Linked DNA regions of Homo sapiens. The protein of the gene in region 1 purifies or fractionates together with the protein of each later gene. This does not show direct contact. Each region holds a gene or a part of one and is shown in the gene's direction. Other genes may lie near its edges.

Evidence for each region.
Region 2: the proteins of SEC63 (region 1) and STEAP2 fractionate together in Homo sapiens (co-fractionation; one large-scale study listed by BioGRID). This does not show direct contact.
Region 3: the proteins of SEC63 (region 1) and GDPD5 purify together in Homo sapiens (co-immunoprecipitation; one large-scale study listed by IntAct). This does not show direct contact.
Region 4: the proteins of SEC63 (region 1) and ABCD3 purify together in Homo sapiens (affinity purification with mass spectrometry, with the first as the bait; one large-scale study listed by BioGRID). This does not show direct contact.
Region 5: the proteins of SEC63 (region 1) and YME1L1 purify together in Homo sapiens (affinity purification with mass spectrometry, with the first as the bait; one large-scale study listed by BioGRID). This does not show direct contact.
Region 6: the proteins of SEC63 (region 1) and EXOC1 purify together in Homo sapiens (co-immunoprecipitation; one large-scale study listed by IntAct). This does not show direct contact.
Region 7: the proteins of SEC63 (region 1) and TMEM154 purify together in Homo sapiens (co-immunoprecipitation; one large-scale study listed by IntAct). This does not show direct contact.

What each region holds. Positions count from the first base shown.
Region 1 is NC_000006.12:107,902,709-107,906,208, reverse strand, and holds part of SEC63 (translocation protein SEC63 homolog), read left to right. Parts: intron 1-1,487; coding exon 1,488-1,580; intron 1,581-3,210; coding exon 3,211-3,365; intron 3,366-3,500. UniProt on the Homo sapiens protein: Mediates cotranslational and post-translational transport of certain precursor polypeptides across endoplasmic reticulum (ER). Proposed to play an auxiliary role in recognition of precursors with short and apolar signal peptides.
Region 2 is NC_000007.14:90,221,740-90,225,239, forward strand, and holds part of STEAP2 (metalloreductase STEAP2), read left to right. Parts: intron 1-3,310; 5' UTR 3,311-3,343; coding exon 3,344-3,500. UniProt on the Homo sapiens protein: Integral membrane protein that functions as a NADPH-dependent ferric-chelate reductase, using NADPH from one side of the membrane to reduce a Fe(3+) chelate that is bound on the other side of the membrane.
Region 3 is NC_000011.10:75,449,442-75,452,941, reverse strand, and holds part of GDPD5 (glycerophosphodiester phosphodiesterase domain-containing protein 5), read left to right. Parts: coding exon of another isoform or gene 1-126; intron 127-610; exon of another isoform or gene 611-1,609; intron 1,610-1,708; exon of another isoform or gene 1,709-2,549; intron 2,550-2,958; coding exon 2,959-3,057; intron 3,058-3,331; coding exon 3,332-3,425; intron 3,426-3,500. UniProt on the Homo sapiens protein: Glycerophosphodiester phosphodiesterase that promotes neurite formation and drives spinal motor neuron differentiation.
Region 4 is NC_000001.11:94,498,389-94,501,888, forward strand, and holds part of ABCD3 (ATP-binding cassette sub-family D member 3), read left to right. Parts: intron 1-213; coding exon 214-291; intron 292-394; coding exon 395-460; intron 461-556; coding exon 557-646; intron 647-1,106; coding exon 1,107-1,226; intron 1,227-3,500. UniProt on the Homo sapiens protein: Broad substrate specificity ATP-dependent transporter of the ATP-binding cassette (ABC) family that catalyzes the transport of long-chain fatty acids (LCFA)-CoA, dicarboxylic acids-CoA, long-branched-chain fatty acids-CoA and bile acids from the cytosol to the peroxisome lumen for beta-oxydation.
Region 5 is NC_000010.11:27,130,385-27,133,884, reverse strand, and holds part of YME1L1 (ATP-dependent zinc metalloprotease YME1L1), read left to right. Parts: intron 1-1,943; coding exon 1,944-2,026; intron 2,027-3,500. UniProt on the Homo sapiens protein: ATP-dependent metalloprotease that catalyzes the degradation of folded and unfolded proteins with a suitable degron sequence in the mitochondrial intermembrane region.
Region 6 is NC_000004.12:55,874,148-55,877,647, forward strand, and holds part of EXOC1 (exocyst complex component 1), read left to right. Parts: intron 1-3,500.
Region 7 is NC_000004.12:152,673,498-152,676,997, reverse strand, and holds part of TMEM154 (transmembrane protein 154 precursor), read left to right. Parts: intron 1-3,500.

The sequences.
Region 1 (3,500 bases):
GGCAGAGCAAGTGTCTTCACATGGCCAGAGCAGGAGGAAGAGAGAGATGGGGGAGATGCCACACGTTTTTAAACAACCAGGTCTTGTGAGAAGTGTATCTCGAGAACAGCACCAAAGGGAGAACTCCACCCCCCTGATCCAATCACCTTCCACCAGGCCCCACCTCCAGCATTGGGGATTACCATTCAACATGAGATTTGGGTGGGGACACAGACCCAAACCATAGCATGGTGGTGCGGTGTGTTTTGTTGCTGTTCTTTTTTGGCCAAATAATTGCTCAAGGACTTTTTAAAAAAGAAATGTATATGCTACATAATTACTTCACAAATGGTTTGAAGATCTAAGTAAGTCAGACGTTTTGGCAAGTGTTAAAATTTAGTGTTTCAAGGTGAGAGAATGCTCTGTATAAGAAATGTTTAGTTAATTGCAGATCATACAAAAGTTCCTAATAATTTTTTTAAAGGACTTTGTAAGTTTTTGGAGGGAGCAAAATGGATTTCACAACAACCAACACCTCTCACCTCCCCATCTACAAGCTTCCTCCGACAGTGGTTACCAATAATGTCTGTTTTATAGTTATTTAAAGCTTCATAAGTACTTGAAGCCATGTATTCTGCTTAAAAGAAAAGTAGTTGATGGAGGCAACAGTGTTTCCAGGGATGTCATTAATTATCTCTTTTTCACCGACATTATTTCAGTTAAAGTTTTAAAAGACAGTTACTACCTCTAGGAAATAAATGTTCTTTTTGAATGATATCCTACCATCCCCCACCTCCTTTAAGGCAGTAATGCAGTTAAATGCTTCCGAAAACAAGGCCATGTGACGCTTAGTAATTGGTGATAGGACAGGATGCTTATGGTGGAATGAAGGAGCACTATTTAGGCAATATCATTGGAGTTGCTTTGAAATACTCAATTAACTAGTAATTCTGTTGCTAATGTTCTGTACAGATACATAAGCATCTCCATTTTTACTTACCTGTAAGAAGCAGGAAACAAATCATTGTTGAGTACCAAATCCATAGGTTAATGTGGTCTTAATAGTTAACTATTATATGCAGTATAAATGAAAGAGTCTTTCTCTTTCTGTAAGTTGCCCTCTTCTTCTCTTCTACGTCTCTTATCTCTCCCCCTGTATTTAGCTGACATATTTATTTTGACATATTTAGTTGATCTGCCTGCCTCAGCCTCCCAAAGTGCTGGGATTATAGGCGTGAGCCACCATGCCCAGCTGGGAGTTGGTTTATTAAGCCTAACATTATGATATTAAAAATTTGTCTTTGAAACGTCTAATCTGAGCTAGGGTTTTATGGCTGATTTTTGACATAGTGATACTGAGGAGAAACTCTTCCATTCAATCTGTAAAATTCTGAGATCATGTGAAATATTTGTGGCATAACTTTAATATTAGTTTTGGGCCACAGTGATAAAGATGCTTTAACTGTAAAATTAAAATGATCTGTTTCAGGTTTTTTATTGTTTTGCAGATCAGCAATTCATGCTAAAAAAGTGTCCTGCCCTACTTCAAGAAATGGTTAATGTAATCTGCCAACTAATAGTAATGGCCCGGAACCGTGAAGGTGAGGAGGAAATATAGTTAATTATGTTATACTTTTTCTTGCAAGCATATGCAGATTGTACTTCATATTTTAGGATTTATGGGTACTCAGACTTCTGTCGGCCAGTTCAGTGAGCTTCTTCAATTTTACTCATGTCTTTTCATATTTCTTTCCTATATTTTCTATTATTTAAAGTCTATATCACAGCTCACTGGGTTTTTTTTGTTCTTTTTTTTTTTTGAGATGGAGTCTTGCTTTGTCGCCCAGGCTGGAGTGCAGTGACAAAATCTTGGCTCTCTGCAACCTCTGCCTCCTGGGTTCAAGCGATTCTCCTGCCTCAGCCTCCTGAGCAGCTGGGATTACAGGCGCGTACCACCACACCTGGCTAATTTTTGTATTTTTGGTAGAGACAGGGTTTTACCATGTTGGCCAGGATGGTCTCCATCTCCTGACCTCGTGATCCACCTGCCTCAGCCTCCCAAAGCCCTGGTCACTGTGTTTTTGATTTTAATTCTTGTTTTTTTTTTTTTTGGAGACAGAGTCTCACTCTGTCGCCTAGGCTGGAGTGCAGTGGCGCGATCTTGGCTCACTGCAACCTCCGCCTCCCAGGGTCAAGTGATTCTCCTGCCTCAGCCTCCTGAGTAGCTGGCATTACAGGCGCATGCCACCACGCCCGGCTAATTTTTGTATTTTTAGTAGAGACGGGGTTTCATCAGGTTGGTCAGGCTGGTCTCAAACTCCTGACCTTGTGATCCACCTGCCTCAGCCTCCCAAAGTGCTGTGATTACAGGCATGATAATTTAATTATTTTATTGTTCAATTGTTTGCAAAGATTTAAAATTTCTCTTTCTTTGAATAATTTTTGAGTTAGGTCATTTTTTCTAACAGTGAATTTGAAATCTTTAACTGATATAAAAGTGATTCATATGTCATGTAATTTTTATTAATTAATTATAGACAGCATCTACCAGGGCTGGAGTCCAGTAGGGTAATCATAGCTCACTGCAGCCTCAAACTCCTGGGCTCAAGCAGTCCTTCTACCTTAGCTCTCCGAGTAGCTGGAACTACAGGTGCATACCACAGCACGGAGCTAACTTTACATTTTGTGTAGAGGTGGGATCTCACTTTGTCGCCCAGACTGGTCTGGTTTCCAACTCCTGGCTTTAAGCAATCCTCCCACTTCAGCTTCCCAAAGCCCTGGGATTACAGTCATGAGCCACATGCCTACAGGCACCTAGCCATTTTTTTTTTTTTGGTATGGAAGGAAAAGAATGAGGGAATTTCTGGTCAGTAATGGAAAGGAATGCCCTTAAAAAAGGATAGTGGTTATGGTTTGTTGTTACGGGTGATGTTGGTTCTTGTCATGGTGTCATATGTTGGTGATACTGATAATGTCTGATAATTTACTATTATTTGAGGTGAGGCAAATAATTTTTCTTTTAAATCAATGGTTGTTGCTGGAAAATGTTCATTAGATCGAGTTTGTATATTTTTAGTGTCTTCTCTGGTAACTTTTAAAGGAAAATCTTACTATGATCCTCAAATTTGAGGTGTTATGGATTTAGTGTGAATTTTGTTTTTGTGATGAATTGTATACTCCTGAACATGTAAAAAGTCCAGCCCTGTTTCTTTTTTTCCTGTTCTTTCTAAGAAAGGGAGTTTCGTGCTCCAACTTTGGCATCCCTAGAAAACTGCATGAAGCTTTCTCAGATGGCCGTTCAGGGACTTCAGCAATTTAAGTCTCCCCTTCTGCAGCTCCCTCATATTGAAGAGGACAATCTTAGACGGGTTTCTAATCATAAGAAGGTAATTCTTTGCTACTTTAAAGTCAGTTTTCAGCAGTTTGTCCTGTCACTTAAAGGTAACATGAATAAAAGTTTTCTGGAAATGGTTACTATGCATTTTTTAGATTTAGAATGTCTTAAATACTCTAAAACTTTC
Region 2 (3,500 bases), on another chromosome or scaffold:
TGTCAAAAGTAAAAGACAAAGAGTGAATTCTAAAAACAGCAAGAGAATGACCAGTCACCTATAAAGGAACTCCCAGCAAAATAAAATTTTTACCTGTTCACATTCTGATTTACAGAAGGGATTTGAACTTGCTTTGTAAAATAAGCAGATAATTAATGTTGTTTTGTTTTTGTTTCTGTTTGAAAAAGTCTTGATCATCATGAGTGTTAGATTTAAAGATTTTGCAATTCTTATATTTTGGGAGATGCTGCAGTATATACTCAGAAGAACTCCAGGCTGGGATATAGGAAACTTGGATTCCCTTGTGTGAATCTAGCAACCTTTTTCACCCTTAGATAATGCTCATGATTACCATTAACTTTCGAATGAAGTGAGCATGGATTTCATTACTTCTGGTTTTTTTAACCACTCCTGATTCCCAGCATAGCTAGTGACATCTCCAAATGGATATTGACAGGTTTTTTTCCTACCCTGGTACCTCTGACTCCTGCCTGCCTTTCTGGGTGCATGGACCACACCAAGGGAGTGGTCTATCTTGAAAGGTGTGAAATGAAACATGTAATTGATTTAAAAATAGTAAATGTTCTTCTTTCCCAGGATCGGGTGCTCCTAGGTAACTCTGAGGAGCAATGAAATGACCAAAGAAAAAGGAATAATATACTACTTTGAGTACAACTGTAATTGTTACACCTTGATACTTATAACCCCCCAAAAACACCCTTTCCTAAACTCCTTACATGCACCTAAATAACACATGTCTTAGCTGGACAACTACCTGGCTTCCCTATTTTCTGTCTTTATGTCCTTGGATAAATTAATTATCTTCTGCAGGTCTCAGTTTCCTCATCTACAAAGTGGGTATGACAGTATTAGCACCTGTCTCTTAGGGTGGTTGTGGGGATTCAATCAGTTAATACATAAAAACCACAAGAGAGCTGAAATACATTATGTCCTATATAAGCATTAAGTAATATTACTATAATTATTGTCTTTCTAAAGTTTAACATACTGATGTATTTGGAGTTACTGGATGTGACTCATTTCTAGGGTAAAAAGTTGAATTTTCCTGGCTGTAGTCATTTCAAATTTCATTTAGTAAAAACCCCAACTTTTTTTTGAAACATTCCACCTGTGCCTGTAAAGTCCATTAAATCCTCTGAAATGGTCCACATCTGCTATGAGCATAGAAGAAATTGTGCAATGAGGGTAGAATGGAAGAGTATTTTTCTTTCAGACCCAATTTCGACACTAATTCATGGCAACCTGATTTGTATTCTTGAGCAAATTATTCCAAATATGAACATTTCAGATGCTAGTCTCTCAACTAAAAAATAATTTGAGAGATTTTTCCAGGAAGAATAACTGCATCATAGTTTATGCAGCCAACAAATGAAAGGGTGTCATGTTGCGGTCCAAAGGGCGTGGGTGGATGAGCAGAAAGAATACTTGAAGGGCTGTAGGCAGGTGAAAGATGATTTTATTCAACAGCAGCTCTGATCAACAACTTTCTCACACTGTCCATCCTGTCTCAGCTGCTTAGTCTGGTGGCTCCCACACACACAGCTCCCTTGCCTTCAGGGTCAGCAGCTTAACTATTTCTCTCTCTGGGCATGGGCAAGCCAAGCTGGGTCCTGACTCCCCCATCTGTCTGCAAAGACAGACAGCTCTGACTCTCTGTCTCTGAGCACAAGAGTGCCTCTACAGTGTCCACAGGGCAATTATACCTTTTACAGACAATAGTGGCTTAGAGCCAAGTGATGAGTTTTCCCTATGTCATAGCGATGGTGGTGAGCTTCTGTTATGTCTACATGGCTATGATAACAAGTAACAAGTGAAGTTATATGCTTGCGCTCTGAACTCACTCACTCTGGATGTTTACCTCTGCCTGTCCTTGACCAAAGCACAGCCATGTTCTTTACAAAGGGGAAGAAAAAGATTTCATACATATTATATAATTTAAGATCATAAACATGTTACTAATCCTTTTTCCATAGGTAAGCTATCTTTCTCAATGATACATTGTAAGATGTAGGGTGAATGATAGAAGTCCATGGTATTTACTCTTTTGTTATATTTTGATGCCTATTTTTCTTAAGATATTATTTAAGTGCCAGGATTCATTGTTAGCTAATTTGTCTAGCTCTCATTTAATGATAAAGTCACTAGCTACTGAAGTATATAGGGAACTTTATAACCTCTACCCCAAATGACTTTAGACAGTTTTGGTTTAAATGGCTTTTTAAAAAATGGTTTTTCTTTCTTCTCTTGTCTTGTGAGCCATCACTTAGTATCACAGTCCTCTCTGCCTCCAGCAGCATTTGTGATTTGCTGCCTCTGATCTGCTCAAAAGCTGGGTAATCATACTTGTTACAAGTGTGTTTTTCCAAAAAGTTCTGAGTGAAAACCTCAGTCCCTTTTTTCATGTGCTCTAGTGAGGTAGGAGGCAGAACTTGAATCCAGAGGCAAGGTTCAGACACTGGACCAAACTGAGGTCAGGGCAGAAGCACCTCCCCATAAGACATGCCCATCAGTGTGCCATGTCAGTTCACTATTGCCATGGCAACACCTAGAAGTTACCACCCCTTTCCATGGCAACAGCCCAACAACCCAGAAATTACCACCCTCATCCTAGAAATTTCTGCATAAATCACCCCTTAATTTGCATATAAATCAAGTAGGTTTAAATATGACTGCAGAGCTGCCACTGAGCTGCTACTCTAGGCACACTGCCTACGGGGTAGGCCTGCTCTGCAAGGAGCAGTACCTCTGCTGTTGCTGTAAACTGTTGCTTCAATAAACGTTGCTGTTTAACACCACCAGCTCGCCCTTGAATTCTTTCCCATGCAAAGCCAAGTAGTCTCCTGGGCTAAGCCCCCATTTGGGGGCTTTCCTGTCCTGCATCACTAGTGCCTTGCTGCTCAAAGAGGGGTCTCAGACCAGCATTGGTATTGCTTTCATTAGAAATGCAGAATGTTGAGCCTCCCTCCAGAACTACTCAATCAGAATCTACATTTTAACGAGATTCCGAAGTGATCTGTGTGCACATTAAAATTTGAGAAGCCCCACTTTAGCACCTCACCTTTGTGACAGTTAATTTTCCTATTGAGATGCTTTTTTAAAAGCCAAAAGATTTATGAAGAGAAACCAGAATAGTGATCCTTTTTTAGCTTACAAATTGTGTCTTACTGTGCTGTATGTTAAAGTGTGGTGAAATATTTTACCTCTAGAAAGACAGGACATTACAATGTCTAGAAGTGTTTTAATGTTCAGTAATAGGTAACTGATGACCATTTTATTTTCTCTCCCCTAGGATATTCTTGGTGATCTTGGAAGTGTCCGTATCATGGAATCAATCTCTATGATGGGAAGCCCTAAGAGCCTTAGTGAAACTTTTTTACCTAATGGCATAAATGGTATCAAAGATGCAAGGAAGGTCACTGTAGGTGTGATTGGAAGTGGAGATTTTGCCAAATCCTTGACCATTCGACTTATTAGATGCG
Region 3 (3,500 bases), on another chromosome or scaffold:
TGTCCTCGCCTGACTCCCCTGCCTCAGTGGCAGCAGCCCCCAGCCCAGGACCTGCACAGAGGAGGCGTCTGTCAGCGACCCAACCTGAGCCCCAGAGAGGAGCACTGGGTACCACACAGCCCCAAGGCAAGTTACTGGCTGGGCTGGGGCTGGGGCTTCTGCCTCCTACCAAGGCTCCATCAGCCTCTACCTGCCATCTGCTATGTCTACTTCATCACCTCTCCTGGTGAATTCAGACTTCTCTCCATGCACTGGCCCCAGCTTTATGGTTTTTCCTGGTGTCCAGCCTCTGTCCCTCCAGCAGCAGCTTAAGGAAGGCGCATTCACTGAGCACCTCCTGTGTGTGCCAGGCACTGCGTTCACCATAACAGCAGTAACCATCCTTTATTGGGTGCTGACCACATGTGTCAGGCACCTTTCACTCAGAATTTCACAGTCATTTCACTCCTCACAATAATCCTGTTCCCATATCATGCTCACTTTTTAAAATGATATCACTGAGATTTAGTAAGCATTTTCTTCTGGCCAGCCGTTGTACTAAGCATTTCACTTGCATTTCCTCACTGATCTTCCCCAACCCCCTTCCAGGTAGGTACTCACTATCCCTATTTCACAGCTCTGGAAAGGTCCCTGGAGAGGATGTGGAAAGATCCCCAGTAGGTAGCAGAGCCAGGATTCGACTGAAGACCGTGATTCAAGTGAGGCTCTTAACCCTGGGCCAGCTGTCTGCCATTTGGACTGCAAAACCCAGAGGCCAGATACCCCTAAGAGGCCAGCTGTTGCACCTCTGCAAGGCGGGGTTCCACCTCCTCTCGGGTCCCGGCACCTAGGCCAGACTCATCGAATGAATGAAAGACTCTGTTGTATCCCCTGTACCCACCATGGCTATCACAAGCCACAGTCCCATGAAGACAGAGAACCCAAGGCCACTTTCTCAGAGGAGGACGGTGATCTGTCTCTGGGCCTCTAGGGTGGGATTCATCCTTCTCAGTCAGATTTCAGGAGCGATGGTGGTTGCGTTTTTGGGTGTCAGTGCTATTGCTATAACTTAATGATGCAAGGTAGGGAAGTCCCACAGACACTGAACATGCAGTGATGCTGCTGAGTGTGTTGATTAGCACCAAAGCAACTGTGGAACTCAGAGATAATAACATTTTTAATTGTATTAGGGTTTGGGGAATCAGTTTTATTGCAAGTCGTTTCCATTAATAGGTATTGTGATGAGATGCTCCTGGAAACCATCCTTAACTCACTGTGTGCAGGGCCACCTCCCACGATGGCCACAAGGGGGAGCTGCGCGCCGGGGGCAGCCGGGAGAAGGGGCCTGAGTGCCGAGGGCGGGGTTCTCAGGGGTTCGGAGGCGCAGCTGGGCCTCCCAGAGACTGCGCAGCCTCTCTGACACCAGCGTGCTGTCTGTCCGAGAAAGCGCACACCCCCTTACCCCCTGAGATGGGCAGAAGGTGTTCGTTTCTGGTTCTGCCCCTTCAAAGCTCCGTGACCCAGCCAGCTGTTCCTCTCCCCGAACCTCGCTTCCCGTGTGTGAGATGAGGATGCTCGTGCCTCCGCGGAACCAACCTGGGGACCACGCGAAGCGCCCCCACAGGCCCAGGCACGCCCATGCCTCTTCCCGCCCCGAGCCCCCATGTCACAGCCCTTCCAGCTCCTCACCTGCCTCGCTCAGGTCTCTTGGGGGAACATTTGTTTCCAGGCTGATGGGCTGGAATGAAAAGCCTCCAAAGGGAAACTTCATCCCAGGCGAGACTCAGCATTCCCCGCCGGCGAGTGAAGGTCCCTGGGTAGGGAGCGGAGATGCTGGCCACCGCCCCACCCTCATCGTCTAGAAATGCCACTGTCCCTGCTCGGCATCAGAGGGCCCTGGCCGCTGCTGCCTCTGGGAAAGGTTGCCTCGGGAGAAAGGGGGTGAAGGCCCTGCCAGCAGCTAGAACGGCTCCAGGGAGGCAGGGCGGCCGGCAGTGCTGTGGGAGAAGGACAGGCCTTTGGAGGGAGATGGGAGACGAGTCTGGAGAAACTAGGGGGACGGAGGTGGCGGCTTTGACTGACCCTTCCAGAGACTGGGATCTGCGGGAGGCTTTGGAGGAGAGCCACAACCTGGGCTTCGGGGAGGCACGCCTGGGGGTGTGGAGGGGGGTGGGTGGAGTGAGATCCACGGCTAGGGGCGAGGGGCTGGGGGCCGAGGAGCCGAAAACCTCTGCCGAGCTTCACGTGGTTAAAGATTTCAGGTCTTACCTGTCACCAGAGATCTCTGTCCCGTAGAGGTGCCACCTCATCCTCCATGAGAGCTGTGCTTTGCTTTCTTCTGGAGGCTGCAAGGAGGATGGCCCCCATCACGGCGGACCTAGATGCTGGGAGTCCGGGAGAGGGCAGGCCGTGGAGATGGGGCAGGTGGCGATGTGTTTCACCACCCACTCCCGCCTGAAGTGCCACTGTGAGCCCAGCCCAGGGTGCCAGGCTGGGCTGCACTCCAGGCTCCTGCAGCAGACCCAGTTCCTCAGCCTCCTTCCCCTGAGGCCTGGGCATGGCCTGGACAAGTGGGTTTCCTCCTCTGCTGTGCCATGCTGAGGTGGCAGGGAGGCTGGGCGGGACCTTGGATGTGACTAACCTGCCAGGCCCAGGGAGGTCCCCCTTACTGAATGTCCTCCCTCCTCACAGTTCCCTCCTCCTCCTGTCCCCATCCTCCCTTCCATTTCTCGCTGTCCCTTCCTCGCTGGGTCTGCCGGCCTCCTGCTGCCTCCTCCTGCCTCAGTCTCTCCCTGCCGTGTCTATCTGCCGGCCTCTAGTTTCCTGGCAGCCCATGCCTGTCTCTTTCCTCCCTCCCCTCTGCCCTGCTCCATCGGCCTCTCCTGCCCTCTCTGTCTCTCCCTCTGGCTCCTCTCTCAGACACACTGGGAACCCTCCCACCCGCTCTGAGCCTCTGTCCGGTGACTCTTCCCCCTCCAGATCGGGCTGGTGGTCATCCTGGCTTCCACGGTGGTGGCCATGTCGGCCGTGGCCCAGCTGTGGGAGGACGAGTGGGAGGTGCTGCTGATCTCCCTGCAGGTGAGTGAGGAGGGTCCCCCAGGACCCTCACAACAAGAGCCTTTCTGTCACTTCCCTTTCTCCAGACCAAGGCCCAAAGAAGGGCAGGGAGGCGCCCAGGGTCACAGAGCAGGTCAGAACTAGGGAGGACACCAGGGTCCTGAGGCTCCCAGTGTCCCCAGTTGGCAGATGGAGACAGGGTTGCCTGCCTCATAGGTAGAAGTAGGAGGCTGGTGACACAGGGTCTGGGCAGAGCTGGGCGTTACTGGTCTCCCTTCCCTCTCCCTGCAAACAGGGCACAGCGCCATTCCTGCATGTGGGGGCTGTGGCAGCAGTCACCATGCTCTCCTGGATCGTGGCAGGACAGTTCGCCCGCGCAGAGCGGACCTGTGAGTAGAACTGTGAAGGGCCTGCCCCTCCAATCCCTGCAGGTGCCAAGACCAGCTGGTGCTGCCCCGACCTGG
Region 4 (3,500 bases), on another chromosome or scaffold:
GAAAAAAAAGTAATGGTAAAAATTGGAAGTAAACAAAGTAAAAGGTCCCTTCACAATACCTCTTCACTGCTCTACCTAATGCTACATTTACAGACAAATAGAAGGCTTATAATTAGCCAGGAGCTATTAATATTTGAGTCTAAGGAAATGTTGATTAAGTATATGTTAATTTGATTTAATTACTTCACAGACTGATTTTTTTTTTTTTTTCAGGTTCGATCTGGGGCTAATGTTCTAATTTGTGGTCCAAATGGCTGCGGAAAGAGTTCACTTTTCCGTGTTCTTGGTGAAGTAAGTACAAGTTGGCCTCAAAATTTTGCAGTCTTATTTTGCCATACTGTCTACCACTTTGTAAATTTTACAATTGTTCTTCTCCCTTCTCTCTCTTTAATAGTTATGGCCTCTTTTTGGAGGACGTCTAACTAAACCTGAAAGAGGAAAATTATTTTATGTTCCTCAGGTAAGACCTAGCTTGAGTTATCTTTGATCTAAAGATCTTTTTGTTTATTTATTTTTTCATGTTGCTTCTAATTGACTTTTGCTCTACTACTGTCAGAGACCTTACATGACCCTTGGAACACTTCGAGATCAAGTGATATATCCAGATGGACGAGAAGATCAGAAAAGGAAGGGAATTTCTGACCTAGTAAGGGAATGTTTATATCCTAGATCCACTGAAAATACTCCAGATTATTTATTTTAATCAATTAAGTATTTTAAATGCCAGGTAGTTTATCTTAAGCTGTAAAGCCTTCCAAAGCTGTAAATTGTGATTTTCTAAGCTGAGGTAAGATGTTAATCCCTTGGCTTAAAAAGAGTTTAATCTTAACCTTTACACCATTGTTTGTTTTCTCATTGCCATCATCCTTTTACTGTGTACAATAGTGTTATTCTCTTTAAGCTACTAGACATATTTTGTCAAGTTTGGTGTAGATACTAGGAGCTGAAAGGTTCAGGGCTACCTTGTGCCACATTCTTTTCTGAAATGTATCTTTTAAGTGGTACAGACAATAGAATTATAGTGATTCCAGTTTAAAAAATAAACCACTATTAAGAATGTTGGCTTATATTAAGTTTAATTTCATCTTTAATCATTTTGCTGAAAGGTACTGAAGGAATACTTAGACAATGTCCAGTTGGGTCATATCCTTGAACGTGAAGGAGGCTGGGACAGTGTTCAGGATTGGATGGACGTACTCAGTGGTGGAGAAAAGCAAAGAATGGCGGTAAGTATACTGTGAAGAAGTTGCACAAGAATGCAACTGGTTCCAGCATTTTGATTAATCAGGACACAAAGTTTCATCTTATATTTTTTTATTCAGCAGCTGTTTCAGTATGGATTAGTTTAAATTATCATAAAAGTGCTTGAAAATCTTTAACTTGCATGTAAATTTGGAATTCTGAAAAATTCATAAATACCCTGCCAGTATCTATGAAAGGAAAAGCTGCAGATCCGACTATATACCAATAATCCATTTTTCTAAAAGTTCAGAGAAACTCTGTAGCTCATTATTCCTGGGATATAAGGTAATCCTGGCTGGGTTATGAAATTTCTTCTCATGTCTCTTCCCTATAGACATCTCTTTTGTATCACTCAGGCTATTCTTTCTGAAATAGCTGAAGGTATTAGAAACGATCCATTCAAATTTTATCTTTATTCTGTTCTTGCCCTTTTCCTCCACTATTATATGTATGTTTTTGTTTCAAGGTTCAGTATCTACTACTTAAAGTTACTTAGAATTTTTAAGTTTTCCTAATATAAACAAGCATTTGAAAGAAACTACTTTAATTGTTATGATGACTAAACTTGTCTCAAACCAAAAATATGCGCTAAACACTACGTAGTAAGAATGAGACCAGCCTGGGCAACATAGCAAGACCCTTTCTCTACAAAAAAAAATTTAAAAATTATCTGGGCGTAGTGGCACACACCTATAGTCCTAGCTACTGGGAGGCGGAAAGATTGCTTGAGCCCAGGAGTTTGAGGCTGCATTGGGCTGTGATCACACACCGTGGCACTCCAGGCTGGGCGATAGAAGGAGATCGTCTCTCTAAAAATAAATAAATAAATAAAAATTTAAAAAGAACGGTAGTTTGGGTACCTTGTCAAGAGGGGCAACTTCATAAAGAGTCATTTTTTAACTATATATTTCATAGTTTGAATAGATCCAAGCAAGAGATTCTCCTCTCCCCCTGCAGAGTATGGAGATTAGAGAAAACTGTAGCTAAGGAAAGAAAGCAAAAGAAATTGGCTTATGGCAGAATTTCTGACCCATTATATTCAGGTTATATTCCACCTTTTTGTTACCTCCGAGTCCCTGATTTTGCAAGTTGTTTTTCCCAAAATCATACCCACTCTACATGAGGTTAATATTAACCTAATAGTGTGACTTGCCTGGCTAGTGCTATAACGTGAGATGAATCTAGTGTGAAGAGTAAATCATAAATGAGAGAGATAATAGCTATATTCAAAATGGAAATTAGGCTGAAGGAGTGAAAATTTGAAATGATTAGGCATTTCTAGAGTCAATTTAGAAGATGACTATAGAAATAACTGCAAAAAAGAGCTGCAAAATAACTTTAAATTTCTGTACTATGTCTTCAGAGAAAATGGAAGGATGTGGTTCAGAAATGGACACGACGGAAACTCAGAGAATGAATAATGAATGTACTTAAACCAAGGAACAGTGTGTGTGTGGTATAAAAGTACAGGAGGGATAATTTTGATTTGAAGATTAGGAATTCAAAGGCGTGCCCAGAGCAGTGGGGGGCTGAGGCGGGAGAATCACTTCAACCCGGGAGGCATAGGCTGCAGTGAGCCAAGATCATGCCACTACACTCTAGCCAGGGCAACAGAGCAAGACTCTGTCTCAAAAGAAAAAAAAAAAAAAAAAAACACATGATCCATAATAGAGGCGTTTGGGAAATGGGGAAAGCTCACCTGTGACACCACTGCATATATAACTGGAGCATGGCCAAGCCATTGTCTAGAGAATTGAATGTGATGTGTAAAAGAGAGCCTGTTGTTTTGTTTCAGAGGGTGGAAAGGAGAAGGCTAACGCTACAAATACTAACGTTGGTGAAATTAGGTAAAGATTATATATGTGTATTCATTTTACTGTCCTTTCAGTTTTTTGGTAGGATTGAAAATTACCAAAGTAGAAAGTTGAGGGGAAAGTAGGTATTAGAATTTTTAGGAAGAACAGACCTAAAAGGCCTAGCCACTTAGAACAGTGAGTCAGCCAGGGTTGCTCCAGCTAATGTCACAATTTGGGATATCTTGTGTTTCTGACCAAAAGTTATCTTTTCCACTCCATTTTTCTTGCTCTTCCTATTTAGTAATAACTTTTCTTATTTTGAATTATGAAAAAGTATATATGATGGAAAAGTGGAATATTTATTTAAGTATAAATTGGGCCAAACCCCTTTACCAGAGATACCACTGTTATAAAATTTTTAGTGTTTTTTTAATCCATTTTTGTAAATCTTTTTTTTTTTTA
Region 5 (3,500 bases), on another chromosome or scaffold:
TTTAGAAAATGATACCTGTCCAATTATAAAATTTAAAAATTATCCTGGTCAACAGGGTGAAAGGAAAATTAATTAATTAATTTTAAAATTATGTAGAAGAATTTTATAATGGCAATACAAGCTGAAATAGTCTTCTATTTCAAAGATAAACAAATTCAGTTTATTCATAAAATCACATTAAATGTTTCCCTTTTTTTTAGTTTGCTTATCTGAAATTAAGCAATAGTGTCAGACTTACGTGGTTCCAATTACCTTTTCCACTACTGTGCAGTTTTCACCCTGTGTTGCCTATTCTCTTAAATATTAAGGATATGTACAGATTCTTAAAAAATACTTTGTGGGCCAAAACTATTGGTGTTCATTCTAGAATTACTATTTTAAATTTGTTTTCCCAGCTTCTATGTTCCTGATTTATTAAGCATTTCTCCTTAACCCCATATTTTGCCAGCTCATTTTTCAGCCTATCTTAACAGTATTTTGGGCTTCTTCTGAGGAAATTAGAAATTGCTCAATTTACTCATTTATAACTGCTCTAGTTTGGAAGTTTCTACCTGAGTGGGAAAGACTTAAGAAATCCTTGTAATAGTTCTCCAAAATTGATCTCAAATATTTTACTCTCCTATCAGACTTTTTCTGTCTTGCTTGTCAGACTTAATGTTGTCATAATTGATAGGTCATTTGAGGGCAAGTAATAACAGTTGTCAGAGGAAGAAGACTACATGAAAAGTATAATAATGTGTTAAGCCTCAATTTTTTATTAATGTGTGTCAATGTTTTCTGCTAACTTTAAGGCAATGTGTTTCAAAGTGTAGACCTGTGACCAATTAGAATAATTGAAGTGTTTGTTAAAAATGAAAATTCTCCTGGGCCCTGTGCTGTGGCCTGAGAATTAACATACTTCTCAAGTGAGTTTTATTCACACCAAAGTTTGAGAAACTTTGATTTAAGATTTCTATCATTAGATACTACAATAAGAAGTAGAAAATAATTTTTGATTTTATTAACTGAAAAGTACAAATAGGTCATTTTATTTTATTTTTTTATTTTATTTCATTTATTTTTTTTGAGATGGAGTCTCGCTCTGTTGCCCAGGCTGGAGTGCAGTGGGGCAATCTTGGCTCGCTGCAACCTCCTCCTCCTGGGGTTCAAGCAATTTCACTGCCTCAGCCTCCCGAGTAGCTGGGACTACAGGCTTGCGCCACCATGCCCAGCTAATTTTTTGTGTTTTTAGTAGAGACGGCGTTTCACCGTTAGCCAAGATGGTCTCGATCTCCTCACCTTGCGATCTGCCCGCCTCAGCCTCCCAAAGTGCTGGGATTACAGGTGTGAGCCACCACGCCCAGTCTTTATTATTTTTTATTTTTTCAAGTTTATTAAGAAAGTAAAGGAATAAAAGAATGGCTACTCCATAGGCAGAGCAGCCGAAATATGTCTTTTTAACGTGAATCACTTACTCTTTGAAGATGGTTTAGAAATCCAGAAGACCAGCCGGGCGTAGTGGCTCACGCCTGTAATCCCAGCACTTTGGGAGGCTGAGGCGGGTGGATCACCTGAGGTCAGGAGTTCAAGACCAGCCTGACCAACATGGAAAACCCTGTCTCTGCTAAAAATACAAAATTAGCCGGGTTTGGTGGCGCATGCCTGTAATCCCAGCTACTTGGGAGGCTGAGGCAGGAGAATCGCTTGAACCTGGGAGGTTGAGGTTGCAGTGAGCCAAGATCGTGCCGCTGCACTCCAGCCTGGTAACAGAGCAAGACTCTGTCAAAAAGAAAAAAAAAGAAATCCAGAAGACCTAGTTTCTATTCCTCACTCTGATTTGATATGTGAAGTTAGGTCACTTAGACATTTAATTTTTCTAGGCTTTGCTTTCTTGCATCTAAAAAACAAGGTGATTGGAATGTTATTAATCTATCAAATATAAACATTTCTTTTCTTCCCTTTAGTCCGCTTCCGGACAACAACAGGGCTTGATTCTGCAGTAGATCCTGTCCAGATGAAAAATGTCACCTTTGAACATGTTAAAGGGGTAAGTTAAGAAGATTGCCTTGCCTTCTTCATACATCCTCTAATTGATACTCTATATGAGGTCGATATTTGATTCTACAGTGTATTCTAGAATAGGTAAAATTGTGTCCAAAAGTATTAGAAACATTAGTATTTTGGGATAAATAATAATAGCCAAGGATCAAATCTTGCTTTATGGCAGGGGATAGTATAATTTATGAAGGAGCAGCCTGGTGTAGTGGAGTGAATGTGGACTTCAGAGTCAAGCTGACTAATGTTTGAAATTCATTTTTATACTTATTAGCTATGAGACCTTGAAGAAATTACTTTAGATCCTGACAGATAATGTATGTGCTTGACACATAGTAGATATTTAATAAATGGTCCTTCTTTACCTGTACCTCTTACTGATCTTTGTAACTCCACTATCTAAAACATGTTAGACAATGTATATTTCTTGAATGAATAGAATGGATAAATGCTAGTTTATAGTTGATTAATTTGTTAAATATTTAATAGTATTAAGTGCTAGGCCCTATTTTAGCTGCTGGGATAGAATAAATAATCTCTGCATTCTTAGAGTTTAAACTCTAAAAGCAGTAATTGGACACTGATATGTGATGTAAGAAAAAGTAGAGTATGTTAAAAGAATAAAAGTGTATGGAGGAAAAAGTAGAGCAGGGTAAAGAGGATTGGGAGTTTTGAGAGAAGGCTTACAGTTTTAAATGGAGTGTTCAAGGTGTGATTGATGGAGAAGGTGACATTTGAGATAAAATCTGAAGGAGAAGATGGAATAAACTGCATTTATCTGAGAAAGGAACGTTTCTGACCAAAGGAACAGTTTGAGCAAAGGCTCTCAAGTAATAGGGTGTCTGACTTGTTCATTTTTGAAAGTAGAACTAATAGGATTTCTTATTGGAACGTAGGGTGTAAGAGAAAAGAGGAGTCAAAAAGAGCCACAAGATTTTTGGTCTCAGCAATTAGAAGGATAGAATTGACATTTACTGAGATTTTTGTTTTTGTTTTTGAGACGGAGTTTCGCTATTGTTGCCCAAGCTGGCGTGCAATGGCGTGATCTCGGCTCAGTGCAACCTCCACCTCCCAGATTCAAGCGATTCTCCTGCCTCAGCCTCCAGAGTAGCTGGGATTACAGGCACGAGCCACCACGCCCAGCTAATTTTTTGTGTTTTTAGTAGAAACAGGGTTTTACCATGTTAGCCAGGCTGGTCTTGAACTCCTGACCTCAGGTGATCCACGCAGATCAAAGTGCTGGGATTACAGGCGTGAGCCACGGTGCCCGGCCTTTAGTGAGGTTTTAAAAGGCTGTGAGTGGAGCAGATCTGGGGGACAAAGGTTAGAAATTTAGTTTTAGGTATGTTAAGTGTGAGAGATACGAATGAAAGTGTTGAGTAACTTGGATATACCACTTTGGAGGTATGGGAGAGGTCTGAGCTAGAATTAAAAATAGGAGATTATATTTATATGTATGTTAAGTC
Region 6 (3,500 bases), on another chromosome or scaffold:
GAACGAGTCCATGCAATACAGTTTATAGCAAATGTATAGTTACAACATTTACAAATATTGTACTGAAGAATCCAGTGAAAATAATCTATTCACAATATAACAGTAATTTCAAAGCATTGATTCTCAGTCTTTTTAAAATTCACAAATTAGTAAAATTAAAAGAAATAAAATTCGGAGACTGACCAAATCACCAATTTTTTTATTTTACCAAATAAAGACCTTTAAAAAGAAATACTATTATCCACTTTCATTATCTTTTCATTTTAAAAATGACATTTTGGCACTAAAAGAATAAGAATTTCCTTTCCGATTTTAAAAATTAATACATTTACCCTTATGAAGGACTCACTTCTTTCATTGTACTTTTTCTTATTGCTATAGGCCAGGAAAAACATCTTGCATTTGGGAATGACTGATCCAGAGCATGCTATCTGTAATGCAACTTTCCTATTAATACTTCTGTGTTATCTATACTTAAGTGAAACTTGAAGTGTATTTTAATATAATAATCACTGTAATATAATATGAGAGTAATGTTACATAAAGAGTAGTTAGCTTCTTTTAGATCTTTCAGATCTTACACACTCAACTTCCCCTGAAATTATAGGCTCTTGCCCATAATTTTTACATTTACTAGGGATTTCTGTATCTAGAAAGATCAAGAATGAGAATCTGGTCAGTTTACACTAATTAGGATTATGATATTGAAAACAGTCAAATTAAGGCTAATGAAATTGAGGAAATATTTGCATAAAGAATATGTCCTTTAAAAAATTGTTTTGGTTGTTTTTTGAAAGATTTATTTTGATAACTACTCTCTGCCTTTTGTTTCCCCCTTTGGTTCTACAGAGACCTCATGATTCTATCTACTTTTGCCTTTAGCAACATGATGAGACTGATTATGTACATAACTTAGAGAAAATGAAAATAAACTGAAATGCACTGAACTAAAAGTACAACCAGGAAAAAACTGAAGTTGTGGAACTTTTTACCATATGCTTAAGTTTAGAAATTTTTCTCTCAACATACATATACAGAAACAAGCTATAATAAAATAAAACCTGTATTGCAGACCACCAGCATTCAATTTCTTTTACAAAAATTGTTTCCTTAAGCATATTTGTAAACACGGATTGATGATCTCTGGTTAAAAGCTTAGAAAGACTTGTGATTAAGATCTATTTTTGTGAGGTTTGTTGGAACTTTGCTCAGATTTTTTTTTTAAGAAAAGAATAAGTAAGTATGCCATAACAGAAAGAAGGAGTTCCAAATCTTGAAAATTTATTCAAATTTTGACCCCAATGTATCATTTCTTTAAAAAAGTCACTATAGCAAAGTGCTTAAGAGTGCAGACACTAGAGCCAAACTTCCTGGGTTCAAAATCCTGACTCTCCTACCTCCTAGCTGGGTTACCTTGAACAAGTTAATTGACATTTGTGCCTGAGTAAACAGTAGTAGAAGAACATAGACAATAATTTTGAGTCTTGAATCATTGAGAAAAATTAATGAGGAAGATTGTTTTGGATAACGATACATTGTTACTAATAAAAACTATTTGGTAAACATTTGTATGATATAAGTCTGTCAAATATTCTTCCCCTTTAATCAGCGTGACCAATTAAGGCACATAGTTTAGGCCAGGCGCAGTGGCTCACACCTGTAATTCCAGCACTTTGGGAGGCTGAAGTGGGCCAATAACTTGAGCCCAGGAGTTTGGGGGCAACCTGGGCAGCATAGTAAGACTCCATCTCTATTAATAAAAATAAATTTTTAAAAAATAAAACACAATTTGGAGACATTTATAGACCTAAAACTATAATATCTATATCTGGCTAGTATCTAATACATGTGATGCTGTAGAATCCTGATTATCCTTCTGGCATCTTGGTTAGAAAACATTTCTGTAATAGAATGTTTATATTGACCTTTGGCAACATAGAAATAGATAATAGTCCAATGGTAATGCCTGTGTATTTTACTTAATATTATTGATTTTGTTCATCTTTATTGTTAGCCCTTACAGAAAAGATATGGTAGCCCAGGCATTCTAAAAATACAGAATTGTTCCATTCTTCAACACTTTAGCTCTTAGTCCTCATTGATTCTTTTGGAAGATGTGATTGTTTTATATTCAGGTAGCCACCCAGAAAAGAATATCCACATAGGTCTACGCTCCGTTATCCAGAATTCTGGGGGTCAGGAGTGTTTTTAGAATGTTTCAGATTTTAGAAAAGCAATACAGTATATATACTGTATATTATATAATCACTCCAAGCACATGTTTTTGCAACAAAAAATATGAATAGTCACTCTAAGCACTATAAATAGGCCCATGTCAGTTCAGGTCACATTTTACCATCAAAATTGTTTTGGTGCCAAGCTTAGTCTGAGTTTTCAGAGCTTTTTGGCTGTCAGAATTACAGAAAGGGATTATGGACCTATTAATATACCTTGTGTATAACATCTGTGGTAGCTGTGAACTTCTGTTGCCCCTGTGTTCTAGTTCTTGTTATTTTGAACTGGTCAGTTTCATTTTGTGATATTTTTCTGCCATCTCTAGTTCAGTTTCCCAAGTTAACCTAAGTAGATATCAGTAAGATGAATCTGAGAAGTGTATTGGTTGTTTTCTACCATTTTATATGTAATTTCTGTATAATGGGTCCTTTTTTCTTTTTAATTTCCATTTTAAATTGGGATATATTCTCACATGAAGAAAATTTTCCAACAGACTGATTTGAAAACATTTATGAAGAAGGGACATGGATAATGATGTGGGTTTTTGTACTTGGCATGTCTTATACTCCCATCTTTCTTTCTCAGTTACCAAGGAACTCCTCATTTCCTCTAGGCCAGAAATGTTTCCTTCTGAATAGTCTGTATTTAAAAGAAAATTTTTTAAAATTCATAACCACTAGGTTATTTTGTGTATATAGTACAGTATATAAATTAGGTGAAAGAAATCCCTTTTAACTTAAAAGAATTTAAATTCAGGACGCTTATTTAGCTAATGTGTACCAACTAGTATGATACACATTCATAATTAGCTTTAGGTAACCTTATCAGGAAATGAGTTAACTAGCTCCAAAACTCTAGCAGTCTGTGTAATTTTAATACAGTTTTCACAAAATGCTGACAAATAACTTCTGGCTATCTAGGCAAATTAGATTGAGTGAAAATTACATCAAATAAATCTGTCTTGGTTTGCCTTTTGCTTGTTGTTGGGAAATTGTATTTTCAATTTGAATCTGCTCCAAGACAGAAGTAAGACTCAGATGACCAAGGTTCCAATTCCAAGCTCTAAGACTTTATATTCTACTTTTTTTTATCTGTTGTTTTAAATATTACAAACTCTAATGGGAATACCATAAATGTAGACTGTTTTGAATGATTTCTCTATTTGTGTTTCTTAATTCAAGCTATATCAAGAAGGTCATTTGCTTGGTAAATTGTGAAATATGGTATGAGAGAGACAAGCTTCATTAAAACGTTCCATCTTCATT
Region 7 (3,500 bases), on another chromosome or scaffold:
TCAGCTTAATACTATCAGAAAACCAAAAGCAATTTCCTAAATACCAAAAGCATGGGATTTGTTAGTTGCTAAAAGCAGAATTGTTGCAGAAGGGAGAGCTGAAGGCCATGAGGCAGAAACAAGGATGCTGTGACTGTTTTGGTGGCCAAACAGAGAGGAATGGGAGATTTTCTGGGCTGGTTCAGAAGAATAAGAATTATATAAGTATTGGATGAATCTTGACAAGGAGAGAAAGAATAGTAGAAAATACTAGCTATGTAAGTAAGGCTACACATTCTGACACTGTGGTATCTCATATCTTATTTTAATGAACACGGCTGACATCTGCTGTTTCCTGGGACAGTCCCAATTTCAAGTATTAATAACAATAGTAGCTAACATATATAGAACTCATTATAGGTCAGGCACTATTCTAAATGCTACATTCACTAACTCATTTAATTCTCAGAACAACCTTATAAGGTGGGCACTATTATCCCTGTTTTTACATTTGAGAAAACTGAGGCACAGAGAGGCTAAGTGACTTGCCCAAGGTCACACAGCTAATTAGTGAATCTAAGTAAGATTCTGCCTCAGGAGTCCATTCTCTAACCATACTCCATACTACCTCTGGGTTTCCAAGCTCTGCCAGGCTACTCGTTTAGTTTTGGGTTTAGAAAACTGTGGTTGTTGAACCTTTCCAGCTGTAGGTGCAGCACAGAACTCTTGGCTAGGCTTTGCGGTGGCTGCATGTCAATTATAGAGCTGCATTTGTTTGCACTGGGTCAGAGACTGGCTGAGAGGAAGAGGAATGATGAGAGTTGGGTTAAAACTCAGACTGCTGAGGAGGAAGGGAGGGGCTGAAAGAGGTGCAGAGTGAGCACAAGAGAATCTGGGGATTTAAGACTAGAAGCAGGAAAAACAGAATGTTGAAGTCACTGGGTAAGAGGCTTCAGGGTGTGGGAACCAGCGAGGAGAAGAACAGCCTTATGTCAGGCAGTCACTGTGGGAGAGCCCTACTGAGAACTGGCCATTACGACCAAATACTCTAAGGGACTCCCCCAAAAAACAGACAGAGAGGATGAGCTTTAAAGTCCTTCTGTGTCTGAAATTTGGAATCCCAGGAAACCATAAGAGGGAAGATATTGACTGGGATGGGCTCAATTCTGTAATGAAGCAATGCAAACTGCAGCTTGCCTATTCGTATGTAGTTTGTACCACTCTCAAATGTTGGCAAAGATATGGAGAGACAGGAACTCTGCACTACTGGTCCGAGGGTAGATTAGTGCAATCACCTTGTCTATCTTGACGGTCAAGCCATCCATTGGGCTTTTAATTTTAGTCATCATTATTTGGCATTTCTAGAAAATTTGTTTTTTTTTTTTCTTTTTGAGACAGAGTTTCACTCTCGTTGCCCAGGCTGGAGTGCAATGGCACGATCTTGGCTCACCGCAACCTCTGCCTTGTGGGTTCAAGCGATTCTCCTGCCTCAGCCTCCCGAGTAGCTGGGATTACAGGCATGTGCCAGCACACCCGGCTAATTTTGTATTTTTAGTAGAGATGGGGTTTCTCCATGTTGGTCAGGCTGGTCTCAAACTCGCGACCGCAGGAGATCCACCCTCCTCGGCCTCCCAAAGTGCTAAGATTACAGGCATGAGCCACCTCACCTGGCCTATGTGTTCTTTTTTTATACACATTGTGCTTTGGGTTTTTTTCCCTTGTGTTATTTATTCCTTCTTTTATGTCATTATTTTAAACATCTTATTATCTATTTGGTAACTTTTAGCTAAAGTTTGTGTAGACATAATCTTGCCGCTTGTCATATCTGTTGCCTCACATTCTTTTTTTTTTTTTTTTTTTTTGAGATGGAGCCTCGCTCTGCTGCCCAGGCTGGAGCACAGTGGTGTGATCTCGGCTCACTGCAACCTCCACTTCCTGGGTTCAAGCCGATTCTCCTGCCTCACCCTCCCCAGTAGCTGGGATTATAGGCGCATGCCACCACACCTGGCTGATTTTTGTATTTTTAGTACAGACAGGGTTTCACTATGTTGGCCAGGCTGGTCTTGAACTCCTGACTTCAGGTGATCCACTCACCTCGGCTTCCCAGTGTGTTGGGATTACAGGCATGAGCCACCGCACCTGGCCTTGCCTCCCATTCTTGATGGAAATCGTGGGGGCCCTGAGAGCAGAACCTGGTACACCGAGGATGGCTCACCCTACTTAACAGAACCCCAAATTATCTGATCCTGTCACCAAGCTACTATAAAGTGCTCTAAGCCCCAATTCTTTTCGAATATACCCCCAGCCTTGTTATCACAAACTAGGATTTGGAAGAAACTGAGACAGGGGTGTGCTTAAGGGAGCCCATGATTGGACCTCAGGCTTAATCCCCAGCCTTGAATGGGAAGTGGCAAGCATCAGAGGTCAGCTTCCAAGAGCTGCAGGAGGAAGCAACAAAGCCTCCATGAGGGGGTAAGCTGGCAGACCAGAGCCGGCAGTGGAGCAAGCCAGGCGCCAGAAGTAGGTAACCAAGGAGACTGAACTGATTGCCCTCAAGAAAGAAGAAAGGAATAGAGCAATCCAAATTGAAAATCAGAGGAGGGCCCAGGTTCCACAGGTGTCAGGATGATGGCAAGATCAGCCTGGGGTAGCTGACCTGACTCTGAACTTTGCCAAAGTCATTTCAGTGACTTTTTTTTCTTATACCATGGTCTGAAATTTTAGCTTTAACTGTTGACCCAGTGAATGGACAGGAGCTCCCTGAAAACATTATATAGCCTGTTATCTCCCTGGGCCCACACCTTTGTTGAGGAAATGCGCATTGGTAGATATAACTCCGAATTTCAACTTCCTCTAAGCATTTAAAAATATATATCTCTCCTAAGCCTTAGGTATTTTCTTGCTTTCTTGAGATTTCTTTATGCATTTAAAAGATTGCCTTTTATGTTTTATTCAACATTTCTAGGTGTTGCACATTGGGAGAATTTTCAGGTTACCGCATTTATCAGATTATATGAAAAAGGAAATTTTTCTATACAACCATTCTGGAGAATAATTTGGAAATATTACACAAGCAGAAGATGTTCATGCTCCACAATCCCAAGAATTGACTCCTAGCTCACTCACAAATGTGCAGTCAAAAGATATGGCTGAGGTTGTTGATGATAGCATTGTTTGTAAAAATGAAAAACAAAACAAAACAAAATGAAAGCAACCTAAATGTCTATCAACAAAAGGAAAAATAATATTTAGTATAGTCACAGAATGAGTACAACATAACAAGTAAAATTAATGAATTCCAGCCAAATGTATCAAGGTGAATCAGTCTCAAAAGTCATGTTGATACACGTATCAAATGTATCAAGCCAAATGTATCAAAAGTCATGTTGATGAAAAAGTCAGTTAAAGATTATTATGCCACCAGGCATGGTGGCTCAGGACTGTAATCCCAGCACTTTGGGAGGCAGAGGCAGGCGGATCACTTGAGGTCAGGAGTTCGAGACTAGCTTGACCAATGTGGT